Homo sapiens: one gene and its partner. The protein of the gene in region 2 binds, or shares a complex with, the protein of the main gene of each other region. Each region holds a gene or a part of one and is shown on either strand. Other genes may lie near its edges.

Region 1 (7,026 bases), on a different chromosome or scaffold from region 2:
TTTGGGGGTAAAGACACAGGTATCAAATAGAAAATACTCTGCTTTTGTTGTGAGTGAATTACAGAGAGGGGGATTTTTTTCACTAGACATACTTTGTTTATTTTAAACAAGTTAAGAATTTATTTGGAAGTTCTGGAAAAGAGATGATAGGTGTAGAAAAATGAAAGGTGGGAAGCTACAAATAGTAATTTTACCTATAAATTAACATCAGGGCTTTTGTTTTGTTTTTGCAATGAATTTAGCTCCTTGATAATCTTGCTGAAAGAGTAGCTATTAGTGTTAAAGCAGACCTAAAGTTAATAGAAAAAGGTAAAAAAATGGAGAGGGACAGTGTATCCAGGAAAGAGAATGGGGAAAATTGATGTTAGTGGGACCCTATAGAGGCTGTTCTGTGAAGTATATTGATTTGGAAGGTAGGTGTTGCCCATAGAATTGGAAGGGGCACATTCACCAGGAGTAGGAGTGAAAAAGAAGCCTGAATTGGCAGACTAACAGGCTGCTAACTGCATGTTGGAAAGTGGTTTCTAAACCGTGGGTAGAGGAAAGCCCCCATTGCAAGTGGTCTGAACAAGAATGACTCTCTGGAAATAGGTATGAGTTACTCCTGCAAATCTCTTGCCAGTTTTTTGGAAATGCAAATGCTGTCTGTCAAGATGAAGTTGATAAAGCTTTTTGGTATTAACGCTTCTTAGGTATTAAAGAAACAACTACCTTTTTTTGTGACTATTTTATAGTGGGAGTTGGGTTGGCAAGGAGGACTGAAGTCAATATGTATTTTTATATGCGTTGTGCTCCGGGGAGGAAATTTTTGCCTACGTGTGTAGGTCTTAAAATACAGTTATTTGAAAAGATTCAGGTAAAGAATCAGGAAACCAATTTTCCAAACTTTGAGTCTAATGTACAGTCATGAGTCAAACAGCGGGAGTATGAATGTCTCAGAAATGAAACGCTTTTTGATAGTAGAATTTAGCAGGACACAAATACGTGTCAATTGAGATTGTGAACAAACCCCTTTCTAAAGTTGACAGATACGTAGGGACAGGAAATGTCCTCCAGTAGGAAGGTTTATAGAACCTCCCCCAGTCGTCGTCCTTAAAACCTGTTCCTCATTACATATAGCTCGTCCGTCCTCCTACCCGCAGAAAACCTTTGGAAAGGAAAACGTATCCTTTGTGAATTAGATTGCTCTGTGTGTGTGTTTAAAATTTTTTTAACTACAGTGCTGCCTCGGTGAGATTTTTAAGTTGTAACATAGCCCCATTGGGCTTTATATGATAGGAGGAGGAAAGGTTATAAAATTAGGCACCGTTTAGAAGGTGGAAGAAGCTTAGAGGCCCTAAACTGTCGTATTAATTGATGCTCTAAGTGCCTAGGTAAGCAAAAGACAAAGGCCAGGGCTTGGTGTGAACTGCCTGGTGGCTTCGGCCTATGAGTGGGGGATGGGGCCCTTTGTGAAGTCGAGGGTTGGTGCGGAGGGAGAAAACTGCAGGTCTCCAGTCTATCCCCAGTGTGAGCTAGAGAGCGGACCATGAAGGAAGTGGGCAGACCCCGGGAAGTTAGAGGACGCCCGGGGAAAAGCAGGTCCGGGGAGGTGGGCCGAGAGTCCCGGCCAGCGTGCGGGGCGGAGGCAGGGTCCGGTGCACCTGTGCGGCCGCGGGCCGGCCACTTGGGGTCTGTGGTGCCCGAGTGGCGGGCGGGGGTGTTCGCGCCCTGCTTTCGCGCGCGGTCTCGGGCCAAGGTTCTGGGCGCCGGGAGAGGAGAGCTGGGGCGGCGCGGAGCAGCCCCCGTGCGGGCACCCTGTTCCCCTCCCCCGCCCGCAACTTCACCGGCGCGGCGCGAGCCGTCGGGGGCGCGCGCGGGGTGGGGGCGGCGTGGCCGGGCGGTGGCAGCCCACCGCTGGGGAGCGACCTGCGGTCTGGGCCTCCCGGGCACCCCGCCACGGCTGGCAGGTCACTCGGGCCCGAGGGGCCTCGTGGGGAGCGGCCATGTTGGCTTCGTCACTGAGGACTCCGGGCGGGTCGGGTGTTGAGCGAGGCCTCGGACCTTCGGCCTGTCGGGGGCGCCCTGCCGGGGTGGGCATGGGGGCATCTGAGGGGTGAAAGGGGCAAGGGAGGCTGGAGGCTGGCGTCCTTCCCACGCACCGATGGCTGTGATCTCTCCGTGCTGGGGAGAGGTGCAGGGGAGGGACTGAGGAAACCGGTCGGCAAGTGAGAAACTTTAAAATTAGGTCCTACATGGAAAACACCGAGGAATAGAACTGCCCTGGTGTGCGAGGCAAGGTTGGAAGCCAAACTTTGCAGATGAGAACAGGAGATTCCAGGCTGCCTCACTTCCTCCGTGAAAAGTTTTTTTCCTAAACTAGGGACCTGAAGTTCTTGATGTGTAGTTCCTCTTTGCCCAGTAGAATCCAGTGATCGCGCTTAGGTTTATCTGCAGACCTGCACGCTACAGGTGGGAGGCTTCCGCGCCTTAATGCTTCTTGTGTTTGTCTTTCCCATTTCTCCCACTCCAGAATTCAGAAGGAGCTGGCGGACATCACTTTAGACCCTCCACCTAATTGCAGGTGAGTTGCTTTTCGGATTTTTTCCATTTTTAAAATTCTTCTAACCTTTGTCTTGGGTTTTTCTTTTTATTATATACTTTTTCTTTGATTCTTTGGCTAATGCTTGTTATGGCACTAACATCACGTAACAGCTGAAATTTATTAACCTGAGTATAATGTTTTGATGAGCCTCTGACAAGCTCAGTACTGTTGAGAAGAAGTAATGGATTTATTTGGAGTGGATTTTTACATATATGAAACAAAACTAAAGTAAATTTAAAGGTGTCTCCTTGCCTAATCATGGGTCTTTGATATGCCATTAAAGATGATGTAAAACCTTTCAGATGCGAAGGACATTTTGGTTTGGAAAACTGCTTTGCTACAGTAATCTCTTATTCAATCTCTGCTAAGCTAAGAGAACATTAGAGTTAAACACTGGATCTTCAAACTTACTCCATAGCATATAGATTTTTTATTAGACTTTTGGCAGAGCAATTCAGGAAACAATTTCTGGCTTTGATAAAGGTTTTCTTTTAAATTGTAGAGTTAAACTTTCATGGGGTGTTTTTTTCACTTGCTTTATTCAGACTGTATACATATGTGTGTTTCAGTTTCAAAACAAATTGAAACCAGCTTTCTAAGGGTTTGTTGATCACAGCTTTATTTAGAGAAGCCATTTTGCTACTGTTGAGTCAAGGTGGAAGACTTGATGACTTTACTAGATCAACAATGAAGTGAGGGTAACTTACAACTATGTATTAGAATAGAACCATTTATTTAAGGGAGGTCCTGTAACTCCCATACTTTAAAAATTAAGTATAACATTTAACCTAGTTCTCAAGATCGGCGTTGGAAAGGGATGTGAGATTTCAGAAATACTCTAAACTTATTGGTAGGAGTAGAAGTTACTGACAAAGTATTCAGCGGCTATACACAATTTTTAAGATGAGTGTGTGGGAATAGGTTGAAAAGCTAAATGAAGTATTTTGTTTAGTAACAGTGAACTTTGGAAACTAATTAGTGGATTAAATACAAAACTATTGCCGTTTTGGTTACATTCATTCTTAATGTTGATTAGGTGTGGGATGCTCTTCCGTGAAACTTTGTCCTGTTTTGTAAGGAAAGTCATTTTGAGTTTGAAATGCTCTTAAACTATAGTTTATAATTGGAACACTTAATCATTCTGGGGAATTCTTTCCTGGCTAATAATCTCTCAAGATGGTTGAGAAGTGGAAAAACCATAAGACTTAGGCCTAACTCATTATTTTGATGGTGGTGGTTCACGTGGAAGCCTGTAGCTTCCCTTGGTTGTTTGTGTGGAATCCATGTACATTCCCCAAGGTGGTTCTGTGCTGTCTAGTTATTGCTCCTGCTTGGTATTGTGTGTCTCCTATGTGTGTGTTATTAATAACATTGATTAAAACATATAATGGCTTTCTTGTGAATAAGCACAGTCAAATCTAAAATTGTAAACCATTTGAAGATTTTCATGGGATTAAGCATTTAAAAAAAAAAAACAGTGTAAGTACACTTCAGTTTCACATCGTTTTAACTGAGTTTATGTGTGAAAGATTTATGCTCCTGAGGCATGTGGAACTTTTTTATCTTTGGGAAACCCTCCCAATTACCCCTTCAAGGTGAAACGTTTGGGAATTACCTGTGGTCAGGGGATGCACCAAACTGGGTGGCTGTTGGGTGATTGGTGTTACGGAGTCAAAGCTCAAAATACTAAATTTTAAGAAAAATCTCTGATTTGAGAGAAAATACGAGGCATCTTCATTTTGCAAGAGAATGTATATTACATTGTCTTTTAACAATAAAGATGACTTTATTTTCTGAAGATATTTTCCAGTGGGGCCGTTTGAGTAATGTGAATTAAAATTTTTACTTTTGGTTGGCTAATGGTGCTGTCTTAATGTTATATAGTAGTCCCAATATTCAGCTCTCTTAAAAGAGTTCGGTTTTACGTTTTGTGCTGTTACCTTTTGGAATTTAATTATTTAGTATTTTAATGTACTTTATTGGAGATAAAGATGGATTATTTATTTATTTATTTATTTATTTTCTTTTTGAGACGGAGTCTTGCTCTGTAGCCCAGGCTGGAGTGCAGTGGCATGATTTCGGCTCATTGCAACCTCCACCTCCCGGGTCCTGGTTCAAGCAATTCTCCTGCCTCCTGAGTAGCTGGGATTATAGGCACGTGCCACCATGCCCAGCTAATTTTTGTATTTTGGGTAGAGATGGGGTTTCACCATGTTGGCCAGGCAGGTCTTGAACTCCTGACCTTGTGATCTGCCCGCCTTGGCCTCCCAAAGTGCTGGGGTTACGGGCGTGAGCCACTGCACCTGGCCTTGGGGATACTTTTTGAAGTCAGCGTCCAATGAAAATCTATGAATTAAGTGATATATTAAGTGCGTACATGTTTAAAATTACCCTCAGCATGAAAGCATGAGATTTGAATGAGTTAAATAATTGGTTTTCAATTAGTCTGTCTTATATTTTTACCCTTTGCCATACTTCCTTTCTTCAGTCAGCATTCAGTGTGTAGTTTTAAACACGTTATTAAAATATGGCACTTGGCACATAGTAACTTCTCAGTAAATACAAAAATTAGCCGGGCATGGTGATGCACTCCAGCCTGGGCGACAGAGTGAGACCCTGTCTCAAAAAAAAAAGTTGATTATTGCAAATCAGTAGAATTGCTCCTCTTGAAGGAAGGTGCACTGTTTGTGTTCACTAATTTTGGCACTTGGCAAAAATATTTGAAGTTACTGAGCATCAAAACTTATGTGAAATGCAATTGCTCAATATGTTATAATGTATGAAAACATAAAATTAAATTCTTAATGTTGTATATTATGTTGGGTGGATATTTTTTAGAACACAGTACAGATTGTGTTCAATGACCTGGTCCAAAGTCATTTTAAGTAAGTATTTTCAAACTGCTTTATGTTGCCATAGAAATCAAATTCTTAATTTTAGTATCTGTGATTTGTGTGTGTGTGTATATATATGCATACACACACACACAAAATAGTTTCCCAACTCACTCTTCATTTTGGTTAGGCTTTTATTCCCATATCATTTAGCTCTATTCTTTTAGGGAAAAAAATATGTTAACTTTGTAATGATTCCCTAAAGCGTGCCAGATCTTAGATTGTAAAATTATGCCTTTTAGATAGCTGATGAACTCTGGGCCACCAGAGTCAGTTTTGCAGCTGTTATTTATAGCCCAGGGCTCAAACTTTGCTAAATTGACTAGTTATAACTAGCCTGTAGACACGAATATCTGTAGACAGTATGTCTATACAGACTAAATGGCATATTTTGCCTAAGTCCTTTAAACTTCAGATTTTATTTAATGGATATATTTGTTTCATGAGTAAATGTCTCAGTGACTTAACCTAGAAATTCAGATGGGGTGCTATTTTAGGATAAAATGTCTGAAAAGTCATTAAACACTTCAAGCATGGGTGAGAATAATAAAAATACATTTCTTTCTTTCTCACTTTTTTTTTGAGACAGGGTCTCATTTTGTCACCCAGGCTGGAGTGCAGTGGTGCTCACTGCAGCCTTGACCTCCTGGGCTTAAGCTGTCCTCCTGCTTCAGGCCCCCAAGTAGCAGGAACTACAGGCGTTCGACACTACACTCGGTTAATTTTTTGTATTTTTTTGTAGAGACCAGGTTTTACCTATTGGCCAGGCTGATCTTAAACTCCTGGCCTCAAGCCGTCCACCCACTTTGCCCTTCCAGAGTGCTGGGATTACAGGCGTGAGCCATGGTGCCTGGCCCTGATACTAGTTTTTCTGTATGTGACAGAATTTCCATTTAGCCTTCTTTTGATAGCTTTTTTTTCCCTAACACTGCCTATATTTTAAATAGTTTTAAGCCATTATATTATACAAGAATGCATGTTTTTGAAAAATTCAAATACAGAAGTTTGTGGAGTAAAAGGCAAAAGATAGTCCTGATGACCTCTTCTGATCCTGCTCCTTGCACACAGATGCTCCAAGTTAGCACTTTGTATACTTCCACGTAGTTTCTGTGAATTTACATTGTGTTTTTCTGGCATTCCAATACCTCCTCGAATTGGTGGTAATGGTAATGAGATGTCAGTTCAGAAGTCCCAGGCTGCTCATCATGGTTCACAATGGAAAGAGATCCTTTTCTTGCAACAGTGGAGTGTTACATACCTCGTCCAGGTTCAGCATGTTTTAAATGGTTGTTTGGGTATAAGAAATAGGTTCAGCAGAAGTCATCCTTTATAAAACCCTGTATCTTATGTGCTAAAAAGTATTCTTCCTTTTAGCATCTTTCATTTATCTGATGTTACTAAATGCGTTAAGGATAGAAGTGTGACTTAAACATCTGAATGATGTTTAGTTTCACCATTGCAGTGTGTATACCTTTATGCATGTAAAGGCAGTGTTGAAAAATTGTGACAACCAGGAGACTGGGGTTTCAGCACGATCAAAACAGCACC
Region 2 (7,026 bases):
CTGCCCTAATACAGGTGGTGTTTTTTCTTTTTGAGACACAGTCTCGCTTTGTCGCCCAACCTCCGCTTCCTGGGTTCAAGCGATTCTCCTGCCTCAGCCTCCCAAGTAGCTGGGATTATAGGTGCATGCCATCATACCCTGCTAATTTTTGTATTGGAGACAGGGTTTTACCATGTTGGCCAGGCTGGTCTTGAACTCCTGACCTCAGGTGATCCACCTGCTTCGACCTCCCATTTTTTTTTTTTTTGAGTCATGGTCTTGCTCTGTCACCCAGACCATAGTGCAGCGGCACAAACACAGCTCACTGCAGCCTTGACCTCCTGGGCTCAAGTGATCCTCCTGCCTCAGTCTCCTAAGTAGCTGGGACCACAGCTGCATGCCACATGCCCAGCTAATTTTTAAAACTTTTTTTGTAGAGACAAGGTCTCATCACATTGCCCAGGCAAGTCTGGAACTACTGAACTCAAGCCATCCCCCCACCACGGCCTCCCAAAGTGCTGGGATTACAGGTGTGAGCCACCATGTCTAGCTTTTTTTTCTAACTTTAAAAAAGATTATTTCCCATGTCGGTAATCCCAGCACTTTGGGAGCAAGACTCCATAGCAAAAAAAAAAAAGAGATTATTTCCCTGGTGGTCTAGTGGGTAGGGGGAAATAAAAGATTATTGAAACGTAATATACACAGAGGAAAGTACACGTAAGTCTATACAGATCAATGAATTTTACAAACTCAGCATACCATGTAACCTGCACCAGATCAAGAAACAACTTTGTTAGGTCCCTTAAAACCCCACTGGGGACATGGGGGTGTTTATGTTAATATCCTCTGTTTACAGCTGATCAAAAAAGATCAGCTCAGTAGGGGCAGGGCTGGAATTTGAACTCAGGTGTCATTATTACCACATGAAACCTTTACAGTAGCTATACTATCATTCATTCATTCCACAAAATTTAAGTGGTTACTTTTTTTTTTTTTTTTGAGGCGGAGTCTCACTCTATTGCCTAGGCCGGAGTGCAGTGGTGGGATCTTGGCTCACTGCAACCTCCACCTCGCGGGTTCAAGTGATTCTCCTGCCTCAGCCTCTGGAGTAGCTGGGATTACAGGCGCCTGCCACCGCACATGGCTAATTTTTGTATTTTTAGTAGAGACGGGGTTTCAACATCTTGGCCAGGCTGATCTTGAATTCCTGACCTCGTAATCCACCTGTCTCGGCCTCCCAAAGTGCTGGGATTACAGGCGTGAGCCACTGCGCTTGGCTTTTTTTTTTTTTTTGAGACGAAGTCTCCTTCTGTCGCCCAGGCTGGAGTGCAATGGTGCAATCTCGGCTCACTGCAACCTCTGCCTCCTGGGTTCAACCAATTCTCCCATCTCAGCCTCCTGAGTAGCTAGCACTACAGGCATGTGCCACCACGCCTGGCTAATTTTTTATACTTTATTAGTAGAGACAGGGTTTCACCATGTTGGCTAGGCTGGTCTCGAACTCCTGACCTCAAGTGATCTGCCCGCCTTGGCCTCCCAAAGTGCTGGGATTACAGGCATCAGCCACTGCACCTGGCCTAAGTGATTACTATGTGCCAGGCATTGGGTAAACTGGTGATACAATGGTTAGCAAGACAAAGAGACAGATAAGATCCTTGCCCTCATGAAGGAGCTTATATAATAGAAAAAAAGAAAAACAAGTCAACAAAAGTTGTCATAAATGCTATAAAGAACACAAACATGGTGCTCAATGAGAGAATTAAGGGAGTAAAATGACCTAGTTTTAAAGTGGTCAGGGAAGGTCTCTCTGAGGAGGTGACTTTACAGCTGAAAGCTCAAGGTTAAAGAAGATAGCCACACAAAGAAAAGTGGAAGGATGCCAAGAAGAAGGCACAGCATGTGCAAGTCTCCAGAGGCAGGCTGGAAAACACTGGTTGAACTGGATCCAGGAACTGAAAAATATCAGTGTGGTTGGAATGACTTTGGAGGGAGACAGGAAAGGGCCAAATATATAACCTAAGGTTAAGAGTCAGAATAAAATCCAAACAGCAGAGGGACTATATTATAGAGTTAAGCAGGGGAGTGATATATTATTTGTGATTATTTGAAAATATTTTTATGAAACATTTCAAACGTGTAAAAAAGATATGAACACTCATGTACCACCCAGCATTATCAAATCTAAACGCTATTGTTAGATTCAAAATTTTGTTAATAATTAAAACATACATGATACAGCAATGCAACTAAACAACTGTCTATTCCTTTGTTTAGTTTTTCAATGTTATCAGTACAAATTCATCCTATGATCTCCCCAGTAGTCTCGATCTCCTCTGAATGTATTCAGGCACCTCAGGTTTTCTGTTAAACCAATTTTCCTGAAGAAGTCGCTCCTACAGCATCTGACCTGCTCCTGCAGTGGCTCTTCTCTATGCCTAGTACACAGCTGTCAGCCTGGAAGCCTCTTTCACTGCACTGTCACCTGTCTTCCCCTTTCCTGCCTTTCCCTCTCATTTTTGCAAATATTTCCAGAAACTTTCTGAGAAGGGGAATGATGAAAAACTCTGAGGTACTGCATGTCTAAAAAAATGTATTTAGCCTACTGTAACACCAAATTGATAGTTTGCCCGAGTTTAAAATTCCAGGTTGGAAATAATTTTCCCTTAGAATTCTGAACAGATTCTCCAATTGCTATCTAGCTTCTAGTGCTACTTTCAGGGAAGGCTGAAGTCATTTCAAGTCTATTTTTTAACGTGTTCTATTTCTCTTCTCTAGAAGCTTTTAGGATTTTTTTTTCCCTCAGTGTTCTGACATTTTATGATAATGTCTCTTAATGGGAACCTACCTTTATCCTTCATTATGTTGGGACCTAACTGGCCCTTTCAATTCAGAAACAAAGATCCTTCAATTATGGGACACTTTCTGAATTATTTCACTGATGCTTTTCTCCTCTGTTCTGTTAATTATGTATTCTGATCACTAGGTTTATTAGTTCACGTGTTTATATATACCAGTTTACCATGCTATACCCCACTCTTTTGTTGTCCTCCTCTTGTTTTAGAGATAAGAGTCATGCTCTGTCACCCCAGGCTAGAGTGTAGTGGTGTGATCATAGCTCACTGCAGCCTTGAACTACTGGGCTCAAGTGATCTTTCTGCCTCTGCCTCTCAAGTAGCTGGGACTACAGGCATGCATCTACCATGCCCGGCTAATTTTTTAAAAAATAATTTAGGCTGGGCGCGGTGGCTCACGCCTGTAATCCCAGCACTTTGGGAGGCTGAGGCAGACGGATCATGAGGTCAGGAGATAGAGACCATCCTGGCTAACATGGTGAAACCCTGTCTCTACTAAAAATACAAAAAAGTAGTCAGGCGTGGTGGTGGGCGACTGTAGTCCCAGCTTCTCGGGAGGCTGAGGCAGGAGAATGGCGTGAACCCGGAAGGCGGAGCTTGCAGTGAGCTGAGATCACGCCACTGCACTCCAGCCTGGGCGACAGAGCAAGACTCCATCTAAAAAAAAAAAAAATTTTTTTTTTAATTTTTAAATCATTTTTTTTGAGACGGAGTCTTGTTGTGTTGTCCAGACTGGAGTGCAGTGGTGCAATCTCAGCTTACTGTAATCTCTGCCTCCCAGCTTCAAGCGATTCTCTTGCCTCAGCCTCCCAAATAGCTGAGATTACAGGCGTGCACAATCACGCCTGGCTAATTTTTGTATTTTTATTACAGATGGGGTTTCACCATGTTGGCCAGGCTGTTCTTGAACTCCTGACCTCAGGTGATCCACCCACCTTGGCCTCCCAAAGTGTTGGGATTACAGGCATGAGCCACCGCGCATGGCCAACAATTTTTTTTTTTTTTTGAGATAGAATTTTGCTTTTCTTGCCCAGGCTGGAGTGCAATGGTGCGGTCTTGGCTCACTGCAACCTCCACCTCCTGGGTCCAAGTGATTCTCCTGTCTCAGCCTCCCAAGTAGCTGGGATTACAGGTGCTCGCCACCATCCCTGGCAAGTTTTTTGTATTTTTAGTAGAGATGGGGTTTCACCATATTGGCCAGGCTGGTCTTGAACTCCTGACCTCAAGTGATCTGCCTGCCTCAGCCTCGAAAAGTGCTGGGATTACAGGCGTGAGCCACCACGCCCAGCCCCAACAATTTTTTTTTAGACACAGGGTCTTACTATGTTGCCCAGTCTGGTCTCAAACTCCAGGCCTCAAGTAATCTTTCGGCCTCACCCTCCTCAGTAGCTGTCCTCAACCTCATGCTGGTTCCACCTCCTCTGCTCAACCTTTAAATGTTGGGGCACCCAGGGCTTACTCCTGAGCCGCCTTCTCTATTATCAACATTGTCTCTAGGTGAACTTATTCAGGCTTTAAATACTCCTGTGCTGATGATTCCTAAATTTTTATATCCCACTCTCTCCAGAAATCCCAGTGTCTTCTTGACATTTCTACTTGGATTGCCTGACAGGCATTTCAAACTTTTTGTTTTGTTTTGTTTTCTGAGACTGAGTTTCGCTCTTGTTGCCCAGGCTGGAGTGCAATGGTGCGATCTTAGCTCACCACAACCTCCGCCTCCCAGATTCAAGCAATTCTCCTGCCTCAGCCTCCCGAGTAGCTGAGATTACAGGCATGCGCCACCATGCCCGGCTAATTTTTTTTTTTTGTATTTTTAGTAGAGACGGGATTTCTCCATGTTGGTCAAGGCTGGTCTTGAACTCCCGACCTCAGGTGATCCGCCCGCCTCAGCCTCCCAAAGTGCTGGGATTACAGGCGTGAGCCACTGCGCCCGGCGGCATTTCAAACTTAACATGGCCAAAACAAAAACTGAATTTCACTCAAACCTACTACTCCTTCGGTCTTCCATCTCAGTAAAAAGCACCAACAACCACTAAGATGCTCAAGCCAAAAATTTAGGAATTGTCCTTGATTCTACTCTTTCCCCCCACTCCATAATCTATCCAATTCTGTAGCTCTACCTATTAATACAGCCCAAATCTATCCTTCTTACCTCTACTATCACCTCCATTCTATTGCAAGTCATAGCTGCAACAATGTCTCTCTCTGCTGTACTCCTATAACGATCTCCTAATTGGTCTTCCAAAATCTACTTTTGCCATCCTAAGACCTATGATCTACAAAGAAGCCAGAGTAATCTGAAAAAGGCAGGTCACATCACTTGGCAGCTTAAAATCCTGTAAGAGCACCATGAATTTGATTCTAACTTTTCTTTTTTTTTTTTTAAGGCAGAGTCTCGCTCTTGTCACCCAGGCTGAAGTGCAGTGGCATGATCTTGGCTCACTGCAACCTCTGCCTCCTGGATTCAAGCGATTCTCCTGCCTCAGCCTCCCAAGTAGTTGGGACTGCAGGCACCCGCCACCACCCCCGGCTAATTTTTGTATTTTTAGTAGAGACAGGGTTTCACCAGGTTGGCCAGGCTGGTCTCAAACTCCTGACCTCAGGTGATCCACCCACCTTGGCCTCCGAAAGTGCTGGGATTACAGGTGTGAGCCACTGTGCCAGCCTGATTCTAACTTTTTTCATTCTGATTTACAAAGCCCTATGTAATCAGGTCCCTGCCTACTTCTCCTCTCTGAACACATTTCACTTACAAGTGTAAATCACAATCTGTTAAGACATTCATTTAGCTATGAAATTAAGATAATCTTTTTTTGCAACAGAAAATTGCTAGATACTATTCAATCATTCTATGTCTTCATTTCAAGGAAGGTCCAAGAAAAAAAATGTGTTTTGGAAGTCATGAAATAAGATCTAATTAATAAAATGCCTCATCTGGTATTCTATTTTTGGTTCCAATTTTTAGATTTCTGATGATTTCTATAAGCACAGAAAAACAAGAACATGCTCCTCAGTCTCTCTGAGGTACTGTGCCATTCCTTGACCACTTACCCTGTGGGTAGACACTCTTCTAGTCTCTTGTACTGGTAGCCAGAGTTAGGGTTGATTTGGCCTCCTGGGGTACAGGCTGTAGCCTGGATAGTTAGTTGATGGCAGGCACACTTGGACCTATATGACAGAGGGAAATAAAGGAAAGGAGCGGGGGGATCAGAGAACAAAAATAACACAATACACATGTACCCAAGGTTGCTCAGTGTGGCCATGTCAGACTCCAGCCTCCCTACCTCATAGCTTTCATGGAGGCCTTATAGCAGGAGTTCCAGGTGAGGGAGGAGGTAAAGGAAGATGGGGAAAGCAGTACAGATACAAGGCAAAGGAAGAGGTGAAACAGACACCATAACAAAGTTGGAAGCAGGGGCAGCAATTCCCCCCACCAACTCACTTGTCCCGACACCCATCCTTGCAGTCACAGCCAACCAGAAATTCAGGGCCTGTGTTAATGAAAACACCCTTGCCCGGGATACGTTCCTTGCTGTAGGCCACCTGGGGTGGAGGGGTTGTGTCAATCTCATTGACACAGGATAGGGGAACATCTTCCTTCCCATAAGTGATGTCCAAAATATAGTAAAAAGGCTTATAGGGCTGAAACTTTCGGTCCACAAGAACATATGGATCCAAACAGAACATCTCCAGGAAGAGGAAGTCACAGCCAGTCTCGAAAAGGTAGCGTTCTATCTCCTGCATTGTCCGAAGGCAGAGACCACAAGGTGTCTTATAGATAACATGAAAGCCCATCTTGCGGTTAACTCGACGCCGGGCTGTCATCCGCCGGAAGTCATATAGTAACGGGACCAGCAGAGGGTTCTTGCCCCGGTACTGCTCATTCCTCATAGGTCTGACTCGAGACAGACAGGTATAGCTGCAGACATGAGGTAAGTAGAAAAGCTTCTCCATGGGAGCACGGTAGGAGGGCTCTGCTGGGGCCCGCTCCAGCATGCCATGGAAGACTGGGGGTGCTGGAGGGGCCGGGAGTGCTGAGGGTGCTGGGGCAGAGGCTGTGGAGCCTAAAGGTGATCTGCAAATGAGATGCAAGTGATCAGATCGGAAGGCAACAGGACCTCTGTTTTATAATTAACCCTCCAGGTAGCTAAGCCATTTCTCTCATCTTTCAAACAGCTGTGCTCCTGAAGCTAAA

What was found. The genes of interacting proteins can lie anywhere in the genome.
Region 1: the proteins of SETDB1 (region 2) and UBE2E1 are in contact, whole or in part, in a crystal structure (PDB 8IYA), measured with the Homo sapiens proteins. Residues at the interface, in NP_001138887.1 of Homo sapiens: Glu868, Gly869, Tyr870, Glu871, Ser872; in NP_003332.1 of Homo sapiens: Asn125, Ser126, Gln127, Val129, Cys131, Leu132, Lys136, Asp163, Pro164, Leu165, Val166, Gly167, Ser168.

What each region holds. Positions count from the first base shown.
Region 1 is NC_000003.12:23,808,948-23,815,973, forward strand, and holds part of UBE2E1 (ubiquitin-conjugating enzyme E2 E1), read left to right. Parts: intron 1-1,506; exon of another isoform or gene 1,507-1,528; coding exon of another isoform or gene 1,529-1,581; intron 1,582-2,512; coding exon 2,513-2,563; intron 2,564-7,026. UniProt on the Homo sapiens protein: Accepts ubiquitin from the E1 complex and catalyzes its covalent attachment to other proteins. Catalyzes the covalent attachment of ISG15 to other proteins. Mediates the selective degradation of short-lived and abnormal proteins.
Region 2 is NC_000001.11:150,950,338-150,957,363, reverse strand, and holds part of SETDB1 (histone-lysine N-methyltransferase SETDB1), read right to left. Parts: intron 6,907-7,026; coding exon 6,274-6,906; coding exon of another isoform or gene 6,270-6,273; intron 6,000-6,269; coding exon 5,883-5,999; intron 1-5,882. UniProt on the Homo sapiens protein: Histone methyltransferase that specifically trimethylates 'Lys-9' of histone H3. H3 'Lys-9' trimethylation represents a specific tag for epigenetic transcriptional repression by recruiting HP1 (CBX1, CBX3 and/or CBX5) proteins to methylated histones.